Regions from separate parts of the Homo sapiens genome. Here region 1 is linked to region 2. Evidence: fine-mapped expression QTL. Tissue or cell type: whole blood. Region 2 holds a variant in brackets; the other region holds the start of a gene. All regions are shown on one strand. Distances are from middle to middle.

What was found. PIP is the estimated chance that this variant, and not a neighbour inherited with it, causes the effect.
Region 1: LRRC47 starts here. The variant in region 2 is fine-mapped to the expression of LRRC47 in whole blood (GTEx, PIP above 0.99).

What each region holds. Positions count from the first base shown.
Region 1 is chr1:3,794,153-3,799,152 of GRCh38, forward strand. It overlaps LRRC47 (leucine rich repeat containing 47), which reads right to left and starts at 2,346. Exons shown (of 7, transcript NM_020710.3): 1 at 1,710-2,346. The coding sequence starts at 2,324. RefSeq lists a silencer at 1,908-2,117 and an enhancer at 2,233-2,527.
Region 2 is chr1:3,772,016-3,780,140 of GRCh38, forward strand. It overlaps SMIM1 (small integral membrane protein 1 (Vel blood group)), which reads left to right and starts at 734. Exons shown (of 4, transcript NM_001288583.2): 1 at 734-773; 2 at 1,048-1,166; 3 at 3,284-3,468; 4 at 3,780-3,941. The coding sequence starts at 3,359. The coding sequence ends at 3,906. LRRC47 (leucine rich repeat containing 47) reads right to left here. Exons shown (of 7, transcript NM_020710.3): 7 at 6,544-8,125. RefSeq lists a silencer at 141-1,020, enhancers at 1,082-1,597, 1,598-2,113, 2,853-2,997, 3,146-3,661, 3,577-3,636 and cis regulatory regions at 2,941-2,957, 2,949. The variant A/G (reference allele first, on the strand shown) is at 2,949.

The DNA of each region.
Region 1 (5,000 bases), 21 kb after region 2:
CCACTGCACACCAGCCTGGGAGACAGAGCGAGACTCCATCTCAAACAACAATAATAATAACAGTAAAACTCCAGTCTCCACTTTAGCTGGCTCTACATGTGTAAAACTTTCTCTATTGCAACCCTCCTGCCCTGATAAATCAGCTCTATCCGGGTAGTGGATAAAATGAACCCATTGGGCAGTTACATCAGTAACCATGTGTCACTCTACAGTGGGTTTGTTTTTTTTGCCACAGGGTCTCGCTCTGTTCAGGCTGGTATCACAGCTCACTGCAACCTCCACTTCCTGGGCTCAAGTGATCCTCCCACCTCAGCCTCCCGAGTAGCTGGGACTACAGGCACGCGCCACCAGGCCCAGCTAATTTTTGTATTTTTGTAGAGATGGGGTTTCACCATGTTGGCCAGGCTGGTGGTGTGACCTCAAGCGATCTGCCCGCCTCAGCTTCCCAAAGTGCTGGGATTACAGGTGTGAGCCACCGCGCCCGGCCAGGGTTTGTCTATATATCCTTATATAGATATGTTACTTGTAAAATGAGTTGCAATGTCTTGAGGAATTGCTACAGCAAATAAATAGATAAGCTGCTAAAGTGTATACGTATTTTATTAAGAAATGTCCACATAGGCCAGGCGCGGTGGCTCACACCTGTAATCCTAGCACTTTGGAAGGCCGAGACAGGCGGATCACATGAGGTCAGGAGTTCGAGACCAGCCTGACCAACACAGTGAAACCCGTCTCTACTAAAAACACAAAAGTTAGCCGGGCGTGGTGGTGTGCGCCTGTAAGCCCAGCTACTCAGGAGGCTGAGGCAGAAGAACCGCTTGAACCCGGGAGGCGGAGGTTGAAGTGAGCCGAGATCGCGCCACTGCACTCCAGCCTGGGTGACAGGACCAGACTACATCTCAAAAAAAAAAAAAAAAAAAAGAAATGTCTGCATAAATTCAAAGACGAAAAATGGGGGAAGAAATGCAGGACTGCCTTAAGGATGAAACCAAAAGAGAAGATGGAGAGAACATCTGGCTGGGTTTAGGTCGTGGTTCTGCCATGTGGCTTCCCTACTTTCTTTTAGGCAACAGATTCAATGGGCACCTGTTATAGGCCAAGCATTATCGCGGGGCCTGGGGATCCAAGATTAATTAGTAAACAGACGCTGGACAATATAGTCTGGAGAAAAACCCAAGTTACCTGCTGCTTACTTTGGGCAGGCCCTTTGGCTTTCTGTAAAACAGGAATAACCACCCCTACCTTGGAAAGCTGCTATTAGGATGAAGTGAAATATAATCTTCAAGATCACAGCATGTGGCATTATGCAAAATCCAGGGTGCCCCCTTCACCACCAGACTCACTCTCAAGTCACTTCACAAGTACTAGATACAAAAAAGACAGGTCTCTACGCTCGATCTACAGGAGAAGCCAGGTTTGCTAACAATTACAAAATAGCGTACCACGTGTAAAAGTCCAGTTAACAGAATGCGGGGGAGTTCAGAGGCCACCTAGTATGTTGGTGTGGCCAGGAGAAGGGGGAGTTGGAAGGCGGCATCTGCTTCCCAGGGGTGATGCCCCCCGCAGCTGGCTCCTTTCAGCCTTGTAGGAATTCCCTGGGCCCAGTGCCCCAGGGGGCGTCACTAGGAACTGCTCGGCCCCGAGAGGGGTTCCTTCTCCAGGGCTACTCCAAGGCCCCATCCCGCCCCGCCCGGGCAGCCCCCGCTGACCTTGAGCGAGGCCAGGTGGGCGATGTCGGGGCTGAGTTCTCGGAGGCAGTTGTCAGCAGCCGCCAGTTCACTGAGCAGGGGCAGCGCGCCGGGGCGAAAGAGCTCGGCGGGAAAGGAGTCTAGGCAATTGCCGGTGAGGTTGAGGCTCTGCAGGCGCGGGGCGCAGCGCGCCAGGTCGGCTGGCAGCTCGCGCAGCCGGTTGCCGCTGAGGTTGAGGCTCTGCAGCTGCGGAAGGCCCGGCGGCTCGGCGGGGCCCAGGCCTTGGCCCGGCGGCAGCGCCTCCAGCGCGTTGCCCGACAGGTCGAGCACCCGAAGGGCAGGCAGCGGCCCGAGCTCGGGGCTCAGGCCGGGCCCCAGCGCGTTGCGCCGCAGCACGAGGCTGTGCAGCTGCGGCAGGCCCTGCGCCAGGCCAGGCCCCGGCGCGCGCAAGCTCCCGCAGCCGCTCACTTCCAAGTAGTGCAGCAGCGGCAGGGTGAAAAGCCGCGGCGGCAGCTGCCCACCCGCCGCCCGCACTCGCTCCTCCAGCCCGGGCCCCGTCAGCAGCAGCTCCCGCCGCCGCTCGCGCTCAGCCAGCTCCAGCTCCGGCCAAGACTCTGACACCGCTGCCGCCGCCATGGCGCCTCAGCTGCTGGCAGGCACCCACCCACCAGGGTGCTTCCGGGGCAGCGCGCGCCACTTCCGACCTGTGCCGGAAAAGCCCATAGAGAAGCCACCTGGCTGCTAGAGTGCCGCCGCGCGTGCCATAGAGGAGAGTGGCCTCTCCTGCGTAGAGCCGGGGAGGGGCTGGAGAGCGGCTCGCTCTCTCCGCGGGTAGGGGTGAGGGTGGGGGTTATGAACCCAAAAATATCTGAGACAGGACTCAATGAAATGTAAAAAGTTTATTTTGCCAAGGTTAAGGACACGCCAGTGTCACAACCCTAGGAGATCGTGACGATGGTGCCCAGGGAAGTTGGGATGCAGCTTGGTTTTGTACATTTTGGGGAGACGTGAGACATCAATCAACACGTGCGAGTGTACCTTGGTTCAGCCCAGAAAGGCTGGACAATTCCAGGAGAGGGCTTTCAGGTCACAGGTAGAGAAGAGACCGGAGGGTGCATTCTTTTGAGTCTTTGTTCAGCCTTTCGCTGACTGCACAATTTATTATGCATGTGAGACGCGGGTAGAGGAATAGTCGCTTATGCTTTAGTCTGGCTTACTGAATCTTCATTTCTACGTAAACAGTAGAGCAAAGGAAGCGATCAGATATGCATTTGTCTAGGTGAGCAGAGGGATGGCTTTGAGTTCAGTCCTTTGTCTCGCACCTGTGAAGGGAAGCTATCAATTTGCATTGCCAGGGTGAAATTCAACAGAACTGTTTTAGGGTAAAGATCTTGAGGCCCACAGAGAATTTCTTTGTGGGCAAATTGTGAGGGAGGTGTGTAGCTTTAAAAATATGTATTTGTAACTATCTTATTTAGGAATAAGACGGGAGGCCGATTTGCCCGAAGCAGTTCCCAGCTTGACTTTTTCCTTTGACTTAGTGATTGTGGGGTTTTGAGATTTATTTTCCTTTCACAGGGTGGGGTGCGGGCGGATGGAGGAGCCAGAGTCTGTGCTCTACTGTGCCCCGACCGGCTTGTTTTGGAATTCCTGCACTTTTGAGTGGTGTAAACCAAAACCAAAATTCTTTTTTTTTTCTTGAGACGGAGTCTCGCTCTGTCACCCAGGCTGGAGTGCAGTGATGCTATCTTGGTTCACTGCAACCTCCGCCTCCTGGGTTCAAGCAATTCTCCTGCCTCAGCCTCCCGCTGGAACTACAGGTGCATGCCACCGTGGCCGGTTAATTTTTATATTAACCGTGTTAATATAATTTTTATATTAACCGGTTTTCGCCATGTTGGCCAGGCTGGTCTCGAACACCTGACCTCAGGTGATCTGCTCGCCTCAGCCCCCCAAAGTGCTGGGCTCACAGGCACAAGCCACCGCACCCAGCCCCCAAATTCTTATTTATTTATTTATTTATTTATTGAGACAGAGTCTTGCTCTGTTACCCAGGCTGGAGTGCAGTGGTTCCAGCTCGGCTCATTGCAGCCTCAACTTCCCTGGCTCCAGTGATCCTCCCACCTCAGCCCCTGAGTAGCTGGTACCACAGGCATGTGCCACCACGCCTGGCTAATTTTTGTATTTTTTGTAGAGCTGGGGTTTTGCCATGTTGCCTAGGCTGGTCTCAAACCCATGAACTCAAGCAATCCACCTGCCTCAACCTCCCAAATTGCTAGGATTACAGGTGTGAGTCACCAAACCTGGCCAAAAAATAAAATTCTAGAGGCTGGGCACGGTGGCTCATGCCTGTAATCCCAGCACTTTGGAAGGCCGAGGCGGGCGGATCACCAGGTCAGGAGATCGAGACCATCCTGGTGAACACGGTGAAACCCCGTCTCTACTAAAAATACAAAAAAAATTAGCCGGGCTTGGTGGCAGGCGCCTGTAGTCCCAGCTACTCGGGAGGCTGAGGCAGGAGAATGGCAAGAACCCAGAGGGCGGAGCTTGCAGTGAGCGGAGATTGCGCCACTGCACTCCAGCCTGGGCGACAGAGTGAGACTCCGTCTCAAAATAAATAAATAAAAATAAAATAAAATTCTAAGCCCCCCAACCATCTGAGTGGACCCCTCCTCTGGGCCAAGGGCATTCCCTAGTTAATCTGAAAAACTAGTTCAGGCCATGATGGGAAGGGTCGGATGTGGAGGGGTAGGGGTTGGACATGCCTCATTATATTCTCCTCCCTTTGGGAATTCAGGCCCACCTGACCATCATTAATATCAACACAGACTTTAAGACTGACAAAGCCAGGCCAGGTGTGGTGGCTCATGGCTGTAATCCCAGCACTTTGAGAGGCCATGGCGGGTGGATCACTTGAGGTCAGGAGTTTGAGACCAGCCTGACCAACATGGTGAAAACCCATCCCTACTAAAAATACAAAAATTAGCTGGGCATGGTGGCGGGCGCCTGTAATCCAAGCTACTCGGGAGGCTGAGGCAGGAGAATTGCTTAAACCTAGGAGGCGGAGGTTGCAGTGAGCCAAGATTGCACCACTGCATTCCAGCCTGGGTGACAGAGCGAGACTCCATCTCAAAATAACAACAACAATAAAAGACTGACAAAGCTGACTCTTTGTAGCAATGATACCAAATTCTAGCCTGTTTCTAGTAGAGCATTATGTGACTGATCAAGGCCCTGAAGGAAATTGAAGTATTTTACCCCAAATTATATTTCCTTGCTGTATCTTAAAACAATCCTGCAAGGCTGCCTATT
Region 2 (8,125 bases):
CGACGCTTCCCCGGCGCCTCTGAGGCTCTGGGCGCCTGAACACCTTCGGAAGGGACTCTCCCCATTACCCTTCTCTGCTCCCCACCCACACCTGCTTCCCTTCCCGCCGCGAGCACCGAGCGTGGGCCACGTGCGGGCGCCACGCCCCTCAAGCCCCGGAGGAGGACGGTCCCCGCGGCCGGGTCCCCGAACCCAGCATTCAGGCCCAGACGCGCCCAGAGCCTCCCGCAGTCTCGTCGGCGCTGCAGCCGGGTCCCCGCGGGGCTGGGAGGCTCGTGGCGTCGGAGGGGCTCCAGCAGGGGTGAAGGAGGTCGGGGACCCTGGAGGCCCCAAGGGCGAGCCGTCTGGGGGCAGAAAGTGCAGCCCTCTGCAGACCCTGCCCGGCCCCCCTGCACCTCCTGGCCCCGGGGCTGGGCGGCCTAGAGCCCCGGCCCCTTCCGGACGAGGCGTCTCCCGGCCCCACTCGCCCCGCCCCCAGCCCCTTCTGGACCAGGCGCCTCCCCGCTGCGGCCCTAGCCCTTCCCCGCATGGCCCCGCCCCCCTCTCGCCCCGCCCCCTCTCGCCCCGCCCCCGGCCCCTTCTGGACCAGGCGCCTCCCCGCTACTGGCCCCAGACCTTCCCCGCATGGCCCCGCCCACCACTCTAGCCCCGCCACCTTCCGGACCAGACACCTCCCCGCTGCTGGCTCCAGCCCTTCCCCGCGTGGCCCCGCCCCCGCCCTCGCCCCCTGCCCAGGCCCGGCCCCTGCGGAGCCCAGAGACGCGGGGACACAGGTGAGGCGCGCGGGGTCCGGGCTGCGGCTTCCCGGTGCGGCCGCAGTGGGCAGGTGCGACTGTGCGCGGCCTCGCTGGCTGAGAACTGGCGGGGGTGGGGGCGTGCCCTGGACTGACCCCCACCGGCCTAACCCGCGGTGCGGGGCCAGGGCCGGAACTGCCCGCCCGGCTCCTTGCCCGGCTCCTTGTGGCTGCTGGGGACCCCCGACACCAGCCACTTTCCCTTCCCGGCCCTTAGCAAGATCGGCTTCTCCGGTCACCTTTATTTTTTTAGGCTCGAGGCGTCTGCCGCACCTCAGCCCACGACCTGCCCCGCTGGGAGGTGCGGGCCGCTGGCCAGGCCCTGACCGCAACCTGGCCCAGAGGCCCCAGCCCTCAGGCAAGGTTCTCCGGGTAAGTGTGGGGCCCTGAGGCGCTGTGGGGTGAAGAGGTCTATGGAGGGGCGCCTGTGTACCTAGGGCCTTCCTGCACTCACAAGCCCCCAGGAGGTGCCAGGATCCGGGAGCCTCCCAGGGCCTGGAGGGGAGTCCCTGATGGGTTCCTGCCGCCACACCTGTGACCATCACATGAGTGTGGAGAGACGTTTACTGAGCAAGTGAGGGAGGCCAGCCTCAAGGGCCGGCTCTGGTGGCTGTGCACCGGGGTGACTTGGGAACAACGTGTTCTACGTCAGCAAGACAGGAACCCATGATCCCAGAGTTGAACACACTGGGCTTGACCCCTCCCACCGGGAGGCCCATGGTGGGCTGCTGCTGTGGACTTGGAGCCTCAGCACTCCCGAGACTAATGCTGCGTGGATGTCGGGTTGCAAGGCGGCTGCTGCAGCTCCAGCAGCTCCAGCCATCACGTCGAGTCTGGAAGAAGGAGGTGGCTGCTGCTGCTTTCACAGAAGCAAACTCTCCCATCCCCTGCTGCACCCTGGCTCCTGGACCCCAGCTGGGTGACTTGGGAAAGCAGGGGTGGTGGTATTAAGCTTGTCTTACCCGGGTCATGGCTGTTACCTGGGGCTGGCACATTGCTGCTGGGACCAGAATGGGATTCTGCACACCAGGCAAGAGGGCGTGAACCTCGGGTAGGCAGCTGACCGCTCCACATGCTCCGGGAAAACAGCACCCATACTCCAGTAGAGGCTGGGCCTCTCCGGGCCTGAGTGCCAGGCTGCACTGAGCCAGGGCTCCCACCGAAGGCACACTTTATGGCTTTGAGACAGCTCCTTCTGCCTCTCTGGGCTTTGGGGGAAGGCAGACATGGAAGTGCCGGGAGTCTCAGAACTGCCTGGGGCCTGAGTTTCTGAGCTGGCTTCTTGCAGGGGAGTGGCTGCTGTGCCTTTAGGCCTCTGTGCCGATGACCTGGGAGGAAGGTCAGCCTTCCCCGCTGGAGGGGGCCCAGCAAAGCCTCAGCTCCTAGAAGTGAGGGGCCTGCCATTGCCTGCCCGAGGACCCCACTCCTGGGGGCCAGATGCTGAGAGGGGACACTGGGGGCCCAGCAGACCAGAGAGCTGACCCCAGTCCCACAGCCTGGGTGGGTTGTCAACTTCTCGTGCCCCCTCCAACTCCTCCACCCCCACACCCCCTTAGGTAAATAGGAGGTCGAAACAGAGGCCAGAGGGTAAAGGAGGTGCTTAGAGTCCGGGCTGGCTCAGGCCGGCCGGGCAGCTGTGCTAGTGCTTGGAGTTCCTGCTCAGTCCCCGTGGTCTCCTCGCCCCTCTGGGCACTTGGGCTGCCAGGCACCGAGCTGAGTGCCGAGATGCAAAGATGAGTCCCAGGTCTGCAGGAGTTGGAGCCCAGCAGGGAGCTGGCCTTGGGGCCGGGCCCCTCCTGCTCTGGGCAGCCACCCAGCCCTACGACCCTCCTGTCTCTGTAGGGCCTCCCCAAGGCCTTGAATCCACCCCGGCCCCGTGCTCAGTGCATCATGCCCCCCAAGCCCCAGCCCTCCTAGAGGTGTGGGTGGGGGAGGGGCTGCAACCCACACAGGCTGAGGACACAGCTGCTGCCACTGCCTGGGGCCAGCCACGCATCCTCCCCAGACAGGGACCGGTCTAGCTGTACCAGCCGCTGCCCCGGACCTGCTGCCCTGCCCCACCCCCCCCTCCCCTGGCCAGCCTCCCCAGAGGCCAGAAGGCGCCTTATCGGGCAGGGTTAAGGAGGGGGACAGTTATCAGGGGCTGCAGCCTAG[A/G]TTGGGCCACAATGTCCTCGTCTCTTGAGGGTGGCAGGCTGTGCAGGCTCCCTGATAAAAGCACCGGGGAAGGGAGGCTCCTGGAGTGTGCTGGAAGGAAACACTGGCCTCCCACATGCCTGAGGTCAGGGCTTGGCCTGAGATGGAATTCTCGCTTGGTCCCATCCTCCCGGCCTGACCCTGGGCAAATGACTCTACCACTTTGTGTCTAGGTCACCTGTTAAGTCAGGCGACAGACCCGGTGAGGGAGTCAGCCCCCGACCCTTAGTGCCCCTCTCCTAACAGCAGCCTCAGAGGGGGTCTTGACTGCCGCCCTCCATCCGCTTGTTTTACAGTGAAGCCACAGCCTGGCCACCTGTCTTGATCTCCCCACCGAGAAGGCCCCGCCCCTCCCGCTGCAGCCCCACAGCATGCAGCCCCAGGAGAGCCACGTCCACTATAGTAGGTGGGAGGACGGCAGCAGGGACGGAGTCAGCCTAGGGGCTGTGTCCAGCACAGAAGAGGCCTCACGCTGCCGCAGGTGAGGGGCCTGAGGGCAGCCTGCCAGCCATAGCAGGCTGGTGTCTCCCTCCAGAGACGCCTGCCCTAACCCCTGCTACCGGCCCCATCACCCTCCACCCCATCCTGGCTGGGAGCCCACGGTCCAGCAGCTCAGCAAACCGCAGCCTTTGGCCTTCCCTCTGGTTGGCTGTGGGCGGGGAGAGCTTCCTCTTGACTCCAGCAGAGCGCCCAGGCCCCTCCCCCTGACCCAGACCAACGGCCACAGTCCACTTAGGGGGCCCCTCATGCGGCCCTGGCCTGGGGCTCACCTCCAGTTGGTTCTCACCCCAGGATCTCCCAGAGGCTGTGCACGGGCAAGCTGGGCATCGCCATGAAGGTGCTGGGCGGCGTGGCCCTCTTCTGGATCATCTTCATCCTGGGCTACCTCACAGGCTACTATGTGCACAAGTGCAAATAAATGCTGCCCCGCATGCACGCGGGGGGCTGGCCGCACACGTGAGAGCACAGGCCTGGAGACACACCCCTTGTACACATGGACCCCCCCACAGACACGGACCCTGCGGCACACACAGCGCACAGGGCACACGCGCTGGCAGCCAGGCACACGAAGACACCAGGTGCACAGCTGTCATCGGCCCCACACGGGGGCGCACAAACACCTGGCACACAGCCCTTCAAAGGACCTACAAACAGCTGGGCACACGTGGCTGGGAGGCCTGGGCCCAGCCTCAGCAGGAGCTGCAGGACACACCCAGGCTGGGCCCTGCGGCCTGGAGCCCCCAGCTACAGCCTCCTCTCTCCCAGGGCCCAGCCCCTTCCCTTGTGAAGGCCAGGATGAGGGGTTCCTTCAGCGGACAAACCGAGCCCACCTCCCTGGCAGCCCCCCGGGGTGGGATCCTCCCGGCTGCTTTCCTCCGTGGGAGCAGTGTGCAGAGCTGTGTGGCCCTGGGCAGGCCCCTGTCCTCTCTGGGCCTTTCTGACTCCTGGTTTTGTAAGGGTGGCTATGTGTCCCCCGCCCTTGTCTCAGATGCACCATATCTTCCTTAGTAAGTGGGCACAGTTCTTCCTAGGCAGCCCACCACGCGCAGAGGCTGGGTGTGTCCCTCTTGGGGCCGGCGGCTGCCAGGGAGGACCCGGGTCTACCCTCCCTCCCCAGGGATGGGCCTGGTCCCTCCAAGTACTCCTTGTGGGCCAAGAGCCTGTGTACAGAGGCATTAAGTGTCTGTTGAATGAACGGTGGATGACAGCCCTTGCCATAGTTACCTGGCCAGGCGTGACATCCAGGAAGGCTGTGGGAAGGGCTTGTTTCCCCGGGGCAGGCCCCCCTCCCATGTGGCTCTAGGAATGCACCCCTACCAATTGGGCCCTCTGGCGAGGACAGCCGGCAGGCCTGGGGACCCGGATGTGGCTGGACCTCAGCTGTGTCCCAGGGACTTCGGTCCCATTCCCCCCACCCCGATCCTGGCCTCCAGTCCCAGCCCCCGGTCCCAACCTCCATTCTCTTGGTAGGTGCTTTCCTGGGTCTTGTGTTTGGCCCTCACCTACCACAAAAGATCCCAAAAAGCCTTGCCAGAAACATCCCCTTAGGGAAGGGGTCCTCACCCCAGGGCTGGGGGTGGGAGACACGGGCAGCCACTATCCTCACGGGCACAGAGAAGGGAGGCCACAGGGCCAGATGAGGTTATTGGAGGGCTGAGGCTGCGCCTGCCCCAGGCCAGGTCCCGCCGAAAGCATCAAGTCAGGTAAACAGGAGGGGCTGCGCCAGTCTTGGTAGGGAGGCAGACTCCACATCATCCGCCTTTGGGGCGAGCAGGCTCACTTGAGATCTGCCTGGGCCAGCCGGTGGCAGGTGGAGCTGCATGGCTGATTGCACACTGCCCCAAGGCTCCTGGCTCCAAACCCAAGGAGGGAGCCCAAGGGCCTGTCCTGGGCTGCGGTCTGAAGCAATGATGCTTTCCTGGGAGCCTGTTGTTGGGTGGGCTGCTGCCTGCCCCAGCCCCATGACAGCCTGGATCTTCAAAAAGAGATCCCTACCTCTGACCTGCCACTCCCAAGGAGGGAAAGGAGTAGCCAGCTGGTACCCTCCCTGAAGCCCAGCTTCACAGGACAGCACTGCCTTGGGGCTGCTGTAAGGAAGTGGCAGAGGCCGCTGGGCCCAGCAGTTTGGCTGCATGGGCCCCAGAAGGCAGCACTCCGACCTGGGGGTCCTGGGGCTGGGCCTCCCCAAGAACTGGTGCGGCCCAGGAGACAGGCGAGGGCACAGGATGGGGATGGGAGCTGTCCCAGTTCTACAGTCAGAGGGGAAGTGGCCCTGGTGCTTCTGCCACGGGTCCCGCATGCCAGTGATGCCCACGCACCCCCACAAATGCTCCTTCCCACCTGTCAGGGGCTGGCATCAGATGGCACAGGCGCATGTCGGGTCTGCCCTGGATCTGTCTGGCTGCATCTGGGTCCGCCCTGGCAGGGGCCCAGCATCTTCAGCCAGGGGCTCCACCAGCAGCCCTGCCAGCCCCAGCAGGGGAGGCTACAGGCAGACACCCACGGGTGCTCATTGGGCCAGGCACTCAAGTAACCCACAGCCGCCTCTCGGGCACACCACTTGTCCCCTAAGTGACCATGGTGGAGACAGCAGCTCCAGCCCCAGTACCCCCAGGGTCATGGACCTAGGCTGAGCTGAGCAGTGTCCTTACAGCTCTGGGAGGGTTGGGGAGAGGATGGGACAGGACCCTGCTGAGTGGCCGCCTGGCCTACCCTCCCAGAGACTCACGAACAGGAGGATCTGCTGTGGATGCGTCTGGGGCCTGGGCTCCTCTGACTGTGCACCTGGGGTATCCAGGCAGCCCGACACCTCTGGTCCACCTTGTGCTCCAGGCAGGGGCCCAGCAGGGTGAGGCCAGTTCCCAGGACCCCTGGTCAAGGGCACCAGCTTCCCCATGACAGTGGCAGGTGCCTCTTGCTCCCTGCTGGCAAGATCTGGGTGGGGACAGGAGGCCCTCAGCCTCCCCACATAGAAGCCACCACTGGGCTAGAGTGAGCTTTGTGACACTTCGAGCAACAACCTCTGGCAGTGCCGGTGGGAAAGGATCTGCTGGGCCAGGTGCGGAGCTGTTTTTATTAGTGAGTCGGGGGGTGGGGTGGGGTGAAGAAAACATCAGAGACACCTGTGCTGCGAGTTAAATACATTTCCAGCATCTCACGCATCACAAGCTGCATCAGGAAAGGGCACAGCATGTGGCAGCCTCATCCACACCCACGCAGTGACAGATGTGTTACAGCATGGACACCAAGTCCCCGGGAGCCAAGATGGCAGCTCCAGCATCCCTCCCTTCCTCCCTTCCTCCTTCCCGGGCTGGGCCGGGCCATGCAGAGAAAGGGCAGCCTCTGCCATGGCAGCCCCAAATCACCTCTCAGAGCAACTGTCTGGGGTCCCCAGCCCCAGAACTCCAGCAGAGTCCTGGCCTGGGGAAGCCCCCGTGCCGCCTCAAGCCTCCAGCAGGGCAGGCCCCTGGCCAACTGTGGCATCTGCCTTGACTGCCCAGAGCAGCAGGAATCAGGTTTTGGGAGGACACAAGGCAAGGCAGTCATCTGACACACCCACGGCAGTCCAGCTGGCACTGAGTGTGTGGGCCTCGTCCTGTCTGGAGTCCCCTCCCTCCCACAGTGGGCGAGACGGGAAGGCCTGGCGGTGACCAGACAAGTGGGTCCAGGTCTCAAGGCAGCCTGGCCCATGTCCTGCAAGGCTCTGAAGAGCCACCCAGCTGTTAGTCTGCCCACTGCACAGGGCCCCGGGCCTCTCAGGTTGACAACTAAAGGTGTGTGGGCTGTGGGGCTCTTGCAGATGCTTCCCAAAATCACCAGTCATTTCTACAGACACAGAAATCGAGACACTGAACAGAGAACAAATGGTGTCATTCGATAAAGCTGATGAGTCTGCTTCTCACATGGCACCCAGATCGTAAGGCAGTGGGGTCTGTAAAATCATCGCGGTGGCTGGCCGTGTCCTCATGAGCCAAGCACACTGACTCCCGGGAGTGGTGTGCACGCACATGTGGTGCCTGGACATACACGAAGACACATGGACGTGGGGGTCTGACCTGGACATTCACAACGGAAACGTCTACAACAGAAGGCGCCCAGGACCCACCTTTCTGGCGCATAAATGAAGATTTTTGGCTCAAAAACCTAAGCATCCTCCAGCTTTTGCTACCATCTGTCCCTCGGCTGGCTGAGGACTGCCGATGCTTCCCAAGCAGAGGCGTCTGGTCCACTCCTGGGGCTCCACCTGCCTGTCACTGCAGCACCAGCGTGCACACGATGGAAACCCCACCGATGCCGCTCTCCTCCGCTTGGCCCCGCTGAGCCAGGGTGAGGTGCTGCCACTGCCTTCAGCCTACAGGCTGCTTGCCTGAAGGGGTCTCCACATCTCCACCCCCACAAAGCAATCCAACAGCAGTATGAAGAGACGCAATTCTGCCAATTCTAAGGTCACATTAAAACTTTTCCCCCCAAGATTATGATCACTGCCAGCTGGAGAACCCAACGCCCTTGCACATGCCAAGCTGCATCCTGGCATGATATGGTTTTACAAGATGCTGCGTCATAGAAAGTGACCGTGCCGTTCAAGGAAACGCACATCGGTTGGCTTCCCAAGTTTTCGGGTCTCCGAACCAGTGACA